Linked DNA regions of Homo sapiens: all the other regions are linked to region 1. The links come from fine-mapping of genetic effects on gene expression. A gene starts in region 1. Each other region holds a variant in brackets. All regions are shown on one strand. Distances are between the middles of the regions.

Region 1 (4,243 bases):
TATCATCTTGTTGGGTAATCAGAGTTAATTCCACTAACCAACATATTCAAAGTGAAGGACATAGCAGTAAAATTCCTTAAATACCTGTTTGTTTGTTTTATTTTAAGTTGTCACAAGCTTTCACCTACTGCTAAGAAATAAACTTAAGGCATTTATTGCAACTGACTAATGAATGTATGTTAGTGGCTTAAAGAGGAGCCCCAGAAAAATTAGTTGAGAATTCACAGTTGGAGAACCAAATCCTTAACATACATCTGGGAATAGAGTACAAAAATAAACTTACTTATCAATTGCTTTGAACAGACCACTCTAAACCAGTTCCAACACTGACCAAAAGGACTGGTTACCTTCTATCTTTTGAGGGATCTATGGCAAAGCTACGCATGTGCAGAACTGCAAAATCAGTCTGCATACATGCCATTTCCTGACACGGCCCGAGAACCCATACTCCAATGGTCTCACACCAGGTAAACAAGTTTGCCATATCCAGCAGGTGAACTCTGAGCGAGTTAGCAGACCTTACAATTTTCTGTTTTTTTTGTTTGTTTTAAGTCAGCCTTAGTTTTCTTTTTACTGTTTAGAGATGGGGGTCTCTGTTACCCAGGCTGGATGGTATGCAGTATCGTGATATAGCTCACCGCAGCCTCAACTTCCTTGAGCTTAAGCGATCCTCCCACCTTACCCTTCCAAGTAGGTAGGGTTACAGGTGTGTGCCACCACACTCGGCTAATTTTTTTTTTTTCTTATGGAGACGAGGGTCTTACTATCTTGCCCAAGCTGGTGTGAAACTCCTGGGCTCAAGCTATCCTCCCACCTCAGCCTCCCAAAGTGTTCGGATTACAGGCATGAGCCACCGCGCCCGGTCTCACTCTAAACAGTTTTTTTAATCTTGACAAGTTTTAAACTGGACCTCCACATTTAGGGACTTCAAATATTTCCCTCTCTGCCACAACATCCCCACTGTCGCTGAAAACACCTTCCTATTACTGCTAATGTGACTGAAATACAAAAGAGAGCAGAGATTAGTACAAACTTCGAAATAAAATGAAGAACACCGGGACTCTAGCCTCTGCCAACTCCTAACATCCTACCTGCTCAGTTTATTCCTTCTTTAAATATGAACAATTTCACCCTGGTAGACAAGTCAGTGACTGGCACAGTGAAAACAGAGGTAAAAACTTCACCTAGTACTTGGCACATGGTAAGCCCTCAATTAAAGGTAGCTATTATCAACATGGTCATAATATTGACAGACTTGATTACAGAAATAAAACCTTCCCTGTTAAAGGACAATCCTATAGTCCAACACACAACAATAGACATTATGTGTATTTGGCGCAAAATAGACGCCAGATATCCTAAGACCTTAGTTCATTTGTTTTGTTTTTAATTAGTTTTTTAAGTTTATTTAATTATATTACCTCCACCTACCTTTACAAGTAAGTAAACTCGGGGCACTCACTCAAGGTCTGGCAAACTGGGACCCAAAAAGACTGAATTCATAGTCTGCGCTCTTAACCCCACAATGAATAGCCACTGAAGGATGACTTCCTCTTCGACAGAGGAATGGATCTGGGACCAGGTTATTAAATAAGAGATCTGAGTTTGAAAGGTCCTTGGGCCCTCACCCACCCATCTAAACTTGAACACTATCCAATGTTAATTCAACATTAAAGGGTAGAACAACTTAGTGGTTTTAGGAGCGTGGACTGATGAGTCACACAAACCAAGTCTTAAGGCCTGCTGTGAGCCAAATACTAGCTGGGTGACCTTACCCTTTCTCATCATATGCAAAATGGCGATAAGAACAGCACCTGCTTAATCGAGCAGTTTTGAGTATTAATGTAAATGATCCACGTAAACCACGCAGCACAGCGCTCATTAATGTAACTGCAAATGAGAGCCATGGAAAAGGGCAGGTAGGAGCTATAAAAGAAAGTGGAGCCTGTCCCCGAGTAACCCAGCCGATGAGAGCAACGACTCTCCCCAGCAGCAGGGGCAGTCGCCCCCGCCCACTGCCGCAGGCCCGTCCTTACCGCTCTTGGGTTTAGACTCGCCGGCTGGCCCCGCCGAGGCGGAGCGGGGCGGCTGTTGCCCTTTGCTGCTGCCCGAAGAGGCGGAGGAGCTGTTGGAGCCGCTGTTCTTGTCCATGTCGGAGGCGGTGGCGGCGGCGTTGGGGGAGCTCAGCGGCATCAACGGGGGCCTCGGCGGCGACGGCAGTCGGAGCGGAGCGGGCGCGGCGGGGACCCAGGCTCATGGCGTTCAGGGCCGGCGGGGGTCGGCGGCGGCAGCGGTTCTCGGCCTTCATGGCGACATTTTTCCCTGTTTCCTTCCTTGGCTTCTCAAACTAGGAAGAGAAGCGGCGGACGGGGCTGTTAAGCCCGGCGGCAGCGGCGACCGAGGACGAGGAGGCCGGGGCTCGGGAGTCCGGGCCGGGCCTGGCGGGGCGGAGGCTGCGGGGGAAGGGGAGGCGAGGGAGGTTGCGCGAGCCCCGCCGGCCGGCCGGCCGGACACGCTCTCCCGCCGCGAGGCAGGGGAGAGGGCTGGCTGTCTCGGTGTCGGGGACTAGTGTCTCCGACACAGCAACGGATACTCGCCCCTGGGCCGAGGCCGACCTGCTCCGGGAATGGCGACGAGTCGCCAAACAGCATCTCAAAGAACCCGGATGGACTGTATATATAGTGGAGAGGGGGTGAGGTATTCTGGGAAATGTAGTTTTTGCCTACATCCGGGTCTCGTGGTTTGTTTTTTGGTTTTTGTTTGTTTGTTTGTTTTGGTTTTGTTTTTTTTATTTCCTCCCCCACCTCCGCCCCAACCCCACTGTGAGGGCATTCAAAATAATGGGACTTGCAGTTGCTCCAAGTCCAGGTTTTTCACTTAGTACACTAAAAATACAGTAACAATAATAATATACACTGATAATAATGTAGCCAAACATTGGAATACCTGTGGAACTCCTTTATAGACTCGTTTGATTTATGGTTCTTTTTTTTTTTTTTTGAGGCGGAGTCGCTCTGTCGCCCAGGCTAGAGTGCAGTGGCGCGATCTGGGCTGACTGCAAGCTCCGCCTCCCGGGTTCACGCCATTCTCCTGCCTCAGCCTCCCGAGTAGCTGGGACCACAGGCGCCCGCCACCACGCCCGGCTAATTTTCTGTATTTTTAGTAGAGACACGGTTTCACCGTGTTAGCCAGGATGGTCTTGATCTCCTGACCTCGTGATCTGCCCACCTCGGCCTCCCAAAGTGCTGGGATTACAGACGTGAGCCACCGCGCCCGGCCAATTTATGGTTCTTATTCTAGCGTTAATACCAATTGATTTATGGCCTTTAGTCTATCTCATATTAGGAATAATAATAATAACGTTAATAATGACAATACCTTACATTTAATATCACTTTACGGCACTTCTTCATACAGTACATCACTTTATTTCTTTAGCCTGGCGTGGCGGTGCGCACCTGTGGTCCCCATTACCCAGGAGACAGAGGCGGAAACAGGCCATAAGCAGTGTTTCATGCGTGTAATCCCAACACTTTGGGAGGCAGAGGTGGAAGGATCCTTGGAGGCCAGGAGTTCCAGACCAGCCTGGGGAATATAGCGAGACCCCTGTCTCTAAAGAATAAAAATATTTTTTAAAAAATTAGTTGGGCAGCCGGGCGTGGTGGCTCACACCTGTAATTCCAGCCCTTTGGGAGTCTGAGGAGGGGGCAGATCACTTGAGGCCAGGAGTTCAAGACCAGCCTGGCCAACATAGCAAAATCCCGACCCTATTAAAAATACAAAAATTAGCTGGGCTCTGAATAAAATAGTTTGAATAAAACTAACTTTAATTTAAAAGAGAGAAAGAAAAAAAAATTAGCCAAGCATAGTGGCTGTGGCTGCACACCTGTAGTTCTAGCTACTCAGGAAACTGAGGTGGGAGGATCACCTGAGCCCAGCAGTTGGAGGTTGCAGTGAGATACGATCGTGCCAGTGCACTCCAGTATGAGTGACAGAGAGGGAGACCCTGTCTAAACTTTTTTTTAAAAAGTAGAAACAGAGAACAAAAAGCAGATTAGTCATTTCAAAATTACTTTTCTTGTAAAGGTTTAAGCAGAATGGACTTCCTTATGTGGGGTAAAACTGACCAGTTTGGGGATTTGATGATTTCTCAGAAGGTCAGATAAACAATTTCGTTTAGGCGTGGTTGGGTAGAAATTCACCTTGAGTAACTCTGTTTTGGTTTGGTCTACTGTGCTGAAGC
Region 2 (4,243 bases), 33 kb before region 1:
GAGACCAACCTGGCCAACATGGCGAAACCCCATCTCTACTAAAAATACAAAAATTAGCAGGGTATGGTGGTGCTGCCTGTAATCCCAGCTACTCGGGAGGCTGAGGCACAAGAATTGCTTCAACCTGGGACGCAGAGGTTGCAGTGAGCCGAGATTGTGCCTTGTGCCACTGCACTCCAGTTTGGGCGACAGAGCGAGACCCTGTCTCAAAAAAAAAAAGATGCATATCACAAATAATGTATTTAATGATCTGCCACAGTCCTTCGTATGCTCCTTTTTCAGTTAAGCAGAAGAGCGTCACAGTAGTGCAGTCCTCAAGAACCAGGTTCTAATCCCAGTTCTTGCCACTAAGTACCTGCCTCAGCCACAGGTTCCTAATCTGCAAAATGATATGCATATGAACAAAATGGTCACCACAAGTTTTAAATATTCCAATGATGGACACTTTGTTAAGAATGCCCGACAGAGGCCAGGCACAGTGGCTCATGCCTGTAATCCCAGGACTTTGGGAGGCCAAGGCAGGTGGATTACCTGAGGTCAGCTGGCGGATCACCTGAGGTCAGGAGTTTGAGACTAGCCTGACCAACATGGAGAAACCCTGTCTCTACTAAAAATACAAAATTAGCCAGGCATGGTGGCATATGCCTGTAATCCAAACTACTTGGAGGCTGAGGCAGGAGAATCGCTTGAACCCAGGAGGCAGAGGTTGCAGTAAGCTGAGATTGCACTATTGCACTCCAGCCTGGGCAACAAGAGCGAAACTCCATCTAAAACAAAACAAAACAAAACAAGAATGCCTGAGAAATCAGACGTAAGCATCAAAAAGTATCTTTCTTGGCCAGGTACAGTGGCTCACACCTGGAATCCCAGCACTCTGGGAGGCTCAGGCAGGAGGATCACTTGAGCCCAGGAGTTCAAGACTGCAGTGAGCTAATGAATGCATCACAGCACTGAGCAAGACCCTATCTCTTAAAAACAAACAGGCTGGGCACAGTAGCTCCCACCTGCAATCCCAGCACTTTGGGAGGTTGAGGCAGACAGAACACTTGAGGCCAGGAGTTCGAGACCAGCCTGGCCAACATGGAGAGACCCTGTCTCTATTAAAAATACAAAAATTAGCCAGGCATGGTGACGCACACCTGTAATCCCAGCTACTCATGAGGCTGAGGCAGAAGAATCGCTTGAACCCGGGAGGCAGAGGTTGCAGTTAGCTGAGATTGCACCAGTGCACTCCAGCCTGGGTGACAGAGCTAGACTCCATCTCAAAAAAAAAAAAAAGAAATTAATAAACCATGTGCCAGGCAGATGAAGATCACAAAAGATAGTTCTCTGAAATTATAGTAACTCTTTAATAAATGTTTAATTTCATAACACTTTAAACATTCTTTATATATAAGACAAACTTTTTGAAGGCTAAAGGCCCATTTGAACATTTCAATCCAGTCTCATTCCTTAGAATGTAACACTACTACCAATTTGGAACACATCTGTCTCAGTATTTTTCTTTTTTTTTTTGAGAGGGTCTGGCTGTGTTGCCCAGGCTAGAGTGCAGTGGCCCAATCTGGGCTCACTGCAACCTTTGCCTCCTAGGCTCAAGCCATCTCCCCACCTCAGCCTCCCAAGTAGCTGGGACTACAGGTACACACTACCACACCTGGCTAAATTTCGTATTTTTTGTAGAGACAAAATTTGGTTGGTCTTGAACTCCTGAGCTCAAGGGAATCTGCCCACCTTGGCCTCCCAAAGTGCTGAGATTACAGGTGTGAGCCACCGTGCCTGGCCTTCAATTCTTTTCTATACATTTAATATTTTTTTATTTCCTCCCCTGCCTTCTAACAGAAGTTTTTCTATACATTTACATATATATATATACATACACACACACACACACACACACCCATAATGAAATGCTTTAGTTTTGTGGTGGTGGTGGTGTTTTTTTAAAACCCACGAACATTTATTCTTGTTCTACAAATTACTTTTATCTTCCCATTAGTACGTGAATAGAAGAATTACATTCCCTTCTTTAACAGGTGTGATTTTTTTTTTTTTTTTTTGAGACAAAGTCTCGCTCTGTCGCCCAGGCTGGAATGCAGTGACGCAACCTTGTCTCACTGAGACCTCCGCCTCCCAGGTTCAAGCAATTCTGTTGCCTCAGCCTCCCAAGTAGCTGGGACTACAGGCGCCTGCCACCATGCCCTGCTAATTTTTGTATTTTCAGTAGAGATAGGGTTTCACTGTGTTGGTCAGGCTGGTCTTGAATTCCTGACCTCGTGATCCACCCGCCTTGGCCTCCCAAAGTGCTGGGATTACAGGCATAAGCCACCACGCCCGGCCTTCTGGTGTGAAACATTTTACAGTATAAATACTATAATTTAGTCATTTTCTTATTGGTAGGCTTTCTAAACTGTTTTTTTTTTTT[G/TG]AGCTATTAAAACGATGCTACAATAAAGAGACATGTACAAAGATGTTTAGGCATACAGGGGAGTATCTCAAACAAAAACTAGAAACAAAAATAGGTGGGTCAAAGGGAAGACTCCATTTTCAACTATCCTGCCTAAAGAGCTCCTTGAGGTGCTTAGAAGCTGGCAGGGTAAAGCAGTCAGTATAGCAAGTGGGAAAGATGAATAAAAGAATTTGATGTACCTCAGGACTACCAAAGTAAGGTTATGCCCCTGAAGTCCACACCATGCTGAGTGGGCCGGGGTTGTAAACTCAGACACCAAAGCTTTGCATAAGGTCTAACTGATGGGTGAATTCATTAAATTTCACCTGTTTACCTGCATGGGAACCTGGACTTCTGCTGAGAGGAGAAATGGAGAGGGCCCCATGGCCCTCGGTGCTGGTGGGACCCAAAGCAGAATCAGAGGAGCAGGTATAAGAATTGAAGGCAGGAAACTGCTGTAGATTCTCGAGGGGAATGTGGACTTCTGGGTCTGCAAAGGAAAGATAACCCTTGTAAACCCATTTACAGAATTCAATTTTTTTTTTTTTTTTTTGAGATGGGGTCTCACTCTGTCACCCAGGCTGGAGTGTAGTGGTACGATCTCTGTTCACTGCATCCTCTGCCTCCCAGGCTCAAGCGATCCTCCCACCTCAGCCTCCCGAGTAGCCGGGACCACAGGCACGTGCCACCACACCTAGCTAATTTTTTGAATTTTTAAAGAGATGAGGTTTCACCATGTTGTCCAGCCTGGTCTTGAACTCCTGAGCTCAAGTGATCTGCCCACCTTGGCCTCCCAAAGTGTTGGGATTATAGACGTGAGCCACCACACCTGGCCTGAATTTTTCAAATAGTTTCCAACAGTTGAGGACATCACACATGCGTACCCCCAAAGGTCTAGAGGATGCAGACAAAAGCTAAAACCCAAATTTACAATAACTGTCCTTCTATAATGTCTTTAATATAGTTAACCTTGTTCTAACTATTCATAATTGAGGCTGGGTAACAAACATGCAGGTTAATTACATTGTTCTACTTGTCTTGATATTTCCATAATAAAAAGGTGAAAACAAAAAATCCTATTCCTGAAATATCAGTTTTCTCAAAGTTCAGGACATGTGCCAAACACCTACACGGTGTTGGGACCCCAAGTATACACTTGTCCCACTTGAGATATAAAATGTATGTTTCCATGCCATATGGAGTCAAAACACCGAAGTCCTTTTCTGGGCCAAGGACTCAGTTCCTTGTGTTCTAGTGGATAATGGGACCTCAGGTCACACTAATCCCCTGGATTCAATGAAACTTATTTTGGAGAACCAGATCAAAAGGCTGTGCTTACTGCTACGAAAGATCTCTTAAATCCAACTTCCTGCATTTCCTAGTCTATCAAAATTTCCATCTTATCAGACCCACCTGGCAGACTTGCTGTGTATAGCTGGTCCCTTTAATAAAGAGTCAGAGGTAAGGTCAGTGATCCAGAGAGCATGGGGAACGATGGCCCCCAGCATTCTTAGCGAAGCCCCAATTCCCATCTCTGGAACAGGTGTATATCACCCACTATTACCAAGGCTGAATTTCCTCTTAATCCTTACTATGTGCTAGGCACTTTGACCCATATTAACTCATTATATTTGCAAGCAAGCCTATTAAGGAGGTGCTCTCATGATTCACATTTAAAAGTTGAAGAAAACAAGTGGCTAAGGTCTGGCTCCCAGGTCCCAGACACAGAGTTCTATACAACGACGTACAGCAGTGCTAGTCAAAGATGAAAGTTCCTGAACTTACACTTGCCCTGTTTCT
Region 3 (4,243 bases), 130 kb before region 1:
ATTTTTTTTGTATTTTTAGTAGAGACGGGGTTTCACCATGTTGCCCAGGCTGGTCTCGAACTCCTGACCTCAAGTGATCCTCCTGCCTCAGCCTCCCAAAATACTAGGATTACAGGCATGTGCCACTGTACCTGGCCTCATACAGAATAGTTTCACTGCCCTAAAAATCTTCTCTTCTCTGCCTATTCATCCCTCCCTCCCCCCAACCCCTTGCACCCACTGATCTTTTTACTGTCTCCATAGTTTTGCCTTTTCCAGAATGTCATATAGATGAAATCATAGGGTATGCAGTGTTTTCAGATTGGCTTTTCACTTAGTAATATGCATGTGTGTCCCCTCTTCACCATGTCTTTTCATGACTAGATAGCTCATCTCTCTCTCTCTCTTTTTTTTTTTTCTTTTTGAGACAGAGTCTTGCTCTGTTGCCCAGGCTGGAGTGCAGCAGTACCATCTCAGCTCACTACAACCTCCGCCTCCCGGGTTCAAGCGATTCTGTGTCTCAGCCTCCCAAGTGCTGGGATTACAGGTGTGCGCCACCACACCCAGCTAATTTTTTTTGTATTTTTAATAGAGACAGGGTTTCACCATGTTGATCAGGCTGGTCTCAAACTCCTGACATCAAGTGATCTGCCCACCTCGGCCTACCATAGTGCTGGGATTACAGGCATGAGCCACAGCGCCTGGCCTAGCTCATCTCTTTTTAGCACTGAGCAATATCCCATTGTCTGGATGTGCCCCCGTTTATTTATCCATCACTTACTGAAAGGACACCTTGGTTGTTTCCAAGTTTGGACAATTATGAATAAAGCTGCTATAAGCATCTATGTACAGATTTGTGTGGACATAGGTTTTCAACTCATTTGGGTAAATACCTGCCCTTCCCTCTCACCTGGTGGCTCTTCCCATTTTGGGGGGCTCTAATTATTTATAACCTCCTCCAGGAAGTCTTCCCTAATCCCTCCCTGCAACTTGGCACAGGCGCCCCCTCTATAGCAGCCCCCTGTGCTTCCCCCAGCACACATGGATTATGCTATTGTTTTCTCTGGTTTTCTTGCTGGTTTTGAGCTCTTCGAGGCAGAGACCAGATCTTAGCACACAGCAGATGTACAATGCATCCTCGTAGGATGAATGGGGGATGCCAGGCTTTCAAGAGCAAGGCTGTCATCTGTGGTGGGCGCTACCTGGATACAGGGAGACCTGAGATTTCCAGATCTGGTGATAACAAAGCCTTCTCTCCAACTATCCACGCTCCCTGGCCTTGAAGGCCAACTGCTCCTGAGAGAAAACCTCCCAGCCTTTGTGTTCTGGACACTCACGGTCTCTGGCACATGCTTATCTTGTCTTTCTGCTCAGAATGCAAGTTCCTGGTGTGCAGAGTCAACATTTTACCCTTTCCCTGTATCCCGTAGTGCCTCACATGGCGTCATGCACAAGACTGCATTCTGCTGTGATTTCAGGCCTGGGGCTGTGCCCCAGCTCTGCCTCTTAGTAGGCAGGCAATCTTGAGCTAGTTATATTACTTCTCTGAGCCTCAGTTTCCTCATCTGTAACATGAGGTTATAATAATGCAATCCATAGAGTCATTCTGAGAATTAAATGTAAGAATATGTGTAAAGCTACTTAGTACAATGACTGCACATAAGTGTACAGTAAATTATAACTATTATGATTACTATTGATTCTTTAAAAAGAAAGTCTTTGAGGCTGGGCGCGGTGGCTCACGACTGTAATCCCAGCACTTTGGGAGGCTAAGGCGGGTGGATCACTTGAGGCCAGGAGTTCGAGACCAGCCTGGCCAACATGGTGAAACCCTGTCTCTACTAAAAATACAAAAAATTAGCCAGGCATGGTGGTGCACCCCTATAGTCCCAGCTACTCGGGAGGCTGAGCCACAAGAATCACTTGAACCCGGGAGGCGGAGGTTGCAGTGAGCCGAGATTACGCCACTGCACTCCAGCCTGGGCGACAGAGCAAGACCCTGTCTTAAAATAAATAAATAAATAAATAAATAAATAACCTTTCACTGAGCACTAGCTGTGTTATGCAAGAAATGCAGTGATTAAGAAAATAGGGTTCTTCTTTCAAAGTTCAGAGTCAACTGGGAAGACAACTCTAACCAGCAGTTAGGGGACAGTGTGAAGAACAGGTGAGCCTGACGTGCTGTGAAAACCCAGAAAAGAGGAAGTTCAGTTTGAGGAACCAGGGAAGGGTGCTAGAAGAAGGAGTCCCACTGTCGAGTCATGAAGAATGTCCCTTGGGCTAACAGAACTTAGCCCAAGT[A/G]AAAAACAGGATAGGCCAGATGCAGTGGCTCACACCTATAATCCCAGCACTTTGGGAGGCCAAGGCGGGTGGATCACCTGAGTTCAGGAGTTCCAGACCAGCCTGGCCAACATAGTGAAACCCCATCTCTACTGAAAATACAAAAACTAGCTGGACGTGGTGGTAGGCGCCTGTAATCCCAGCTATTCGGGAGGCTGAGGCAGGAGAATCGCTTGAATCCAGGAGGCAGAGGTTGCAGTGAGCTGAGATCGTGCCATTGCACTCCAGCCTGGAGTACAAGAGCGAGACTTTGTCTCAAAAAAAAAAAAAAAAAGAACAGGATAAAAGCCCTCCTGGTGGCCAGGCACAGTGGCTCACGCCTGTAATCCCAGCACTTTGGGAGGCCGAGGCGGGTGGATCACTTGAGGTCAGGAGTTCAAGACTAGCCTGGTCAACATGGTGAAACCCCGTCTCAACTGAAAATACAAAAATTAGCCGGGCATGGTGGTGGGCGCCTGTAATCCCAGCTACTTGGGAAGCTGAGGCAGGAGAATCACTTGAATCTGGGAGGCGCAGTTTGCAGTGAGCCAAGATCCTGCCACCACACTCCAGCCTGGGCAACAGAGTGAGACTCTGTCTCAAACAAACAAACAAACAAACAACAACAAAAAAGCCCTCCTGGCAAAAAGATCAGTGTATTCAAGAGGGACCCTAGCAGCTTCACTGATCACAAGTATTTTGGTGGAGTGTGAATGAAGGACTGTTGAGTTGTGGCTGGGGAGGTGAGCTGTGGTCAGATCTTAGGGAGCCTGAGTGTCCAGTTGAGGAATGTAATGTTCAGAAAACACCTACCGTGGATGGATGCATGCGTGGGTAGACAGATAAATGGATAGAGAAGGATGGGTGCAGATGGACACAGGGATGGGTGAATGGATGAGTAGATGGATATAGATGAGGAAATGACTGAACAGATAGATGGATAGATCAATGCAAGTATGGGTAGAAGTATATGCAGACGAAGAGACATGAATGTGTGAATGGAAGTATAGAAGTGTGAACACATAGAGAGATCTATATGAGTAGATGAATACATAGATAGATTCATGGGTGAATGTAGAGAAGAATGAATAGATGCACGAATGGACAGATAAATGCATGGATAAATTGCTATAGGAATGATTGCTTAGAGATGGAGGAATGGATAAATAGGCATCTGGACAGATAAGGAGATAAACAGATGAAAAATGGAGAGATAGATATGGAAAGATGGACAGATAGATGAATAGGTAGATGAATGGATGGACAGATGGATGGATAGGTGGATGGATGGATGGATGGATGGATAGATATGTAGACGAATGGATGGACGGATGGATGGATGGATAAATGGATGGATGGATGATGGACAGATAGATAGATAGGTAGATGAATGGATGAATGGATAAATGGACAGATGGATGGATAGGTAGAGGATGGATGGATGGATAGATGGGTAGATAAATGGATGGATGGATGGATGGTGGACAGATGGATAGATAGGTAGATGAATGGATGGATAAATGGACAGATGAATGGAAAGGTAGAGGATGGATAGATGGATGGACAGATGCATGAATAGATGCATGGGGAAGGGATGGGAGATGGATTAGACGGGGGCATGGACGGAGGGATAAGAGGATGAAAGGGCTGGGGGTTGGAAAATTAGGGCGGATTGATGGTTGCATGATGGATACACAATTGGAGGGCTCCATGGATGGCCACTGCTGGCTTGCTTCTCTCCCACTTTCAAGCCCCACCTACCTTCAAAGTCCACTCGTCCATCCCCATTGAGGTCCACATCTCGGATAATTTCCTCTATGTCTCGGTGTCCCACCTGATGACCCAGGAGCTTCCTCATAGCCTCTCGCAGCTCACTGGTGCTTATTTCCCCATCACCATTGGTGTCAAACTAGAGAAGGCAGGAAGGAAGGAGAGGTCGCCCCAG

Direction of the effects. Positions count from the first base shown, and alleles are read on the strand shown. Sizes are in standard deviations (SD) of each study's normalised expression. Not every link is listed here.
For the expression in monocytes of the gene that starts at base 2,649 in region 1, G is the low allele of the variant in region 2 and TG is the other (small effect, 0.32 SD a copy in Fairfax 2014).

The links. PIP is the estimated chance that this variant, and not a neighbour inherited with it, causes the effect.
Region 2: its variant is the best candidate, but not a certain one, in a credible set for the expression of RNF10 in monocytes (Fairfax 2014, PIP 0.51).
Region 3: its variant is the best candidate, but not a certain one, in a credible set for the expression of RNF10 in sigmoid colon (GTEx, PIP 0.63).

Annotation. Positions count from the first base shown.
Region 1 is chr12:120,532,762-120,537,004 of GRCh38, reverse strand. It overlaps RNF10 (ring finger protein 10), which reads right to left and starts at 2,649. Exons shown (of 17, transcript NM_014868.5): 1 at 2,037-2,649. The coding sequence starts at 2,193. It overlaps LOC128071547, which reads right to left and starts at 2,308. Exons shown (of 1, transcript NM_001414895.1): 1 at 2,048-2,308. The coding sequence starts at 2,308. The coding sequence ends at 2,048. RefSeq lists silencers at 2,430-2,499, 2,598-2,751.
Region 2 is chr12:120,565,515-120,569,757 of GRCh38, reverse strand. RNF10 (ring finger protein 10) reads right to left here. Exons shown (of 17, transcript NM_014868.5): 12 at 4,229-4,243; 13 at 2,778-2,933. Among named protein-coding and RNA genes, the nearest start is that of POP5, 14 kb to the left of the region's middle. The variant G/TG (reference allele first, on the strand shown) is at 2,423.
Region 3 is chr12:120,661,035-120,665,277 of GRCh38, reverse strand. It overlaps CABP1 (calcium binding protein 1), which reads right to left. Exons shown (of 6, transcript NM_001033677.2): 5 at 4,060-4,207. Among named protein-coding and RNA genes, the nearest start is that of CABP1, 23 kb to the right of the region's middle. The variant A/G (reference allele first, on the strand shown) is at 2,281.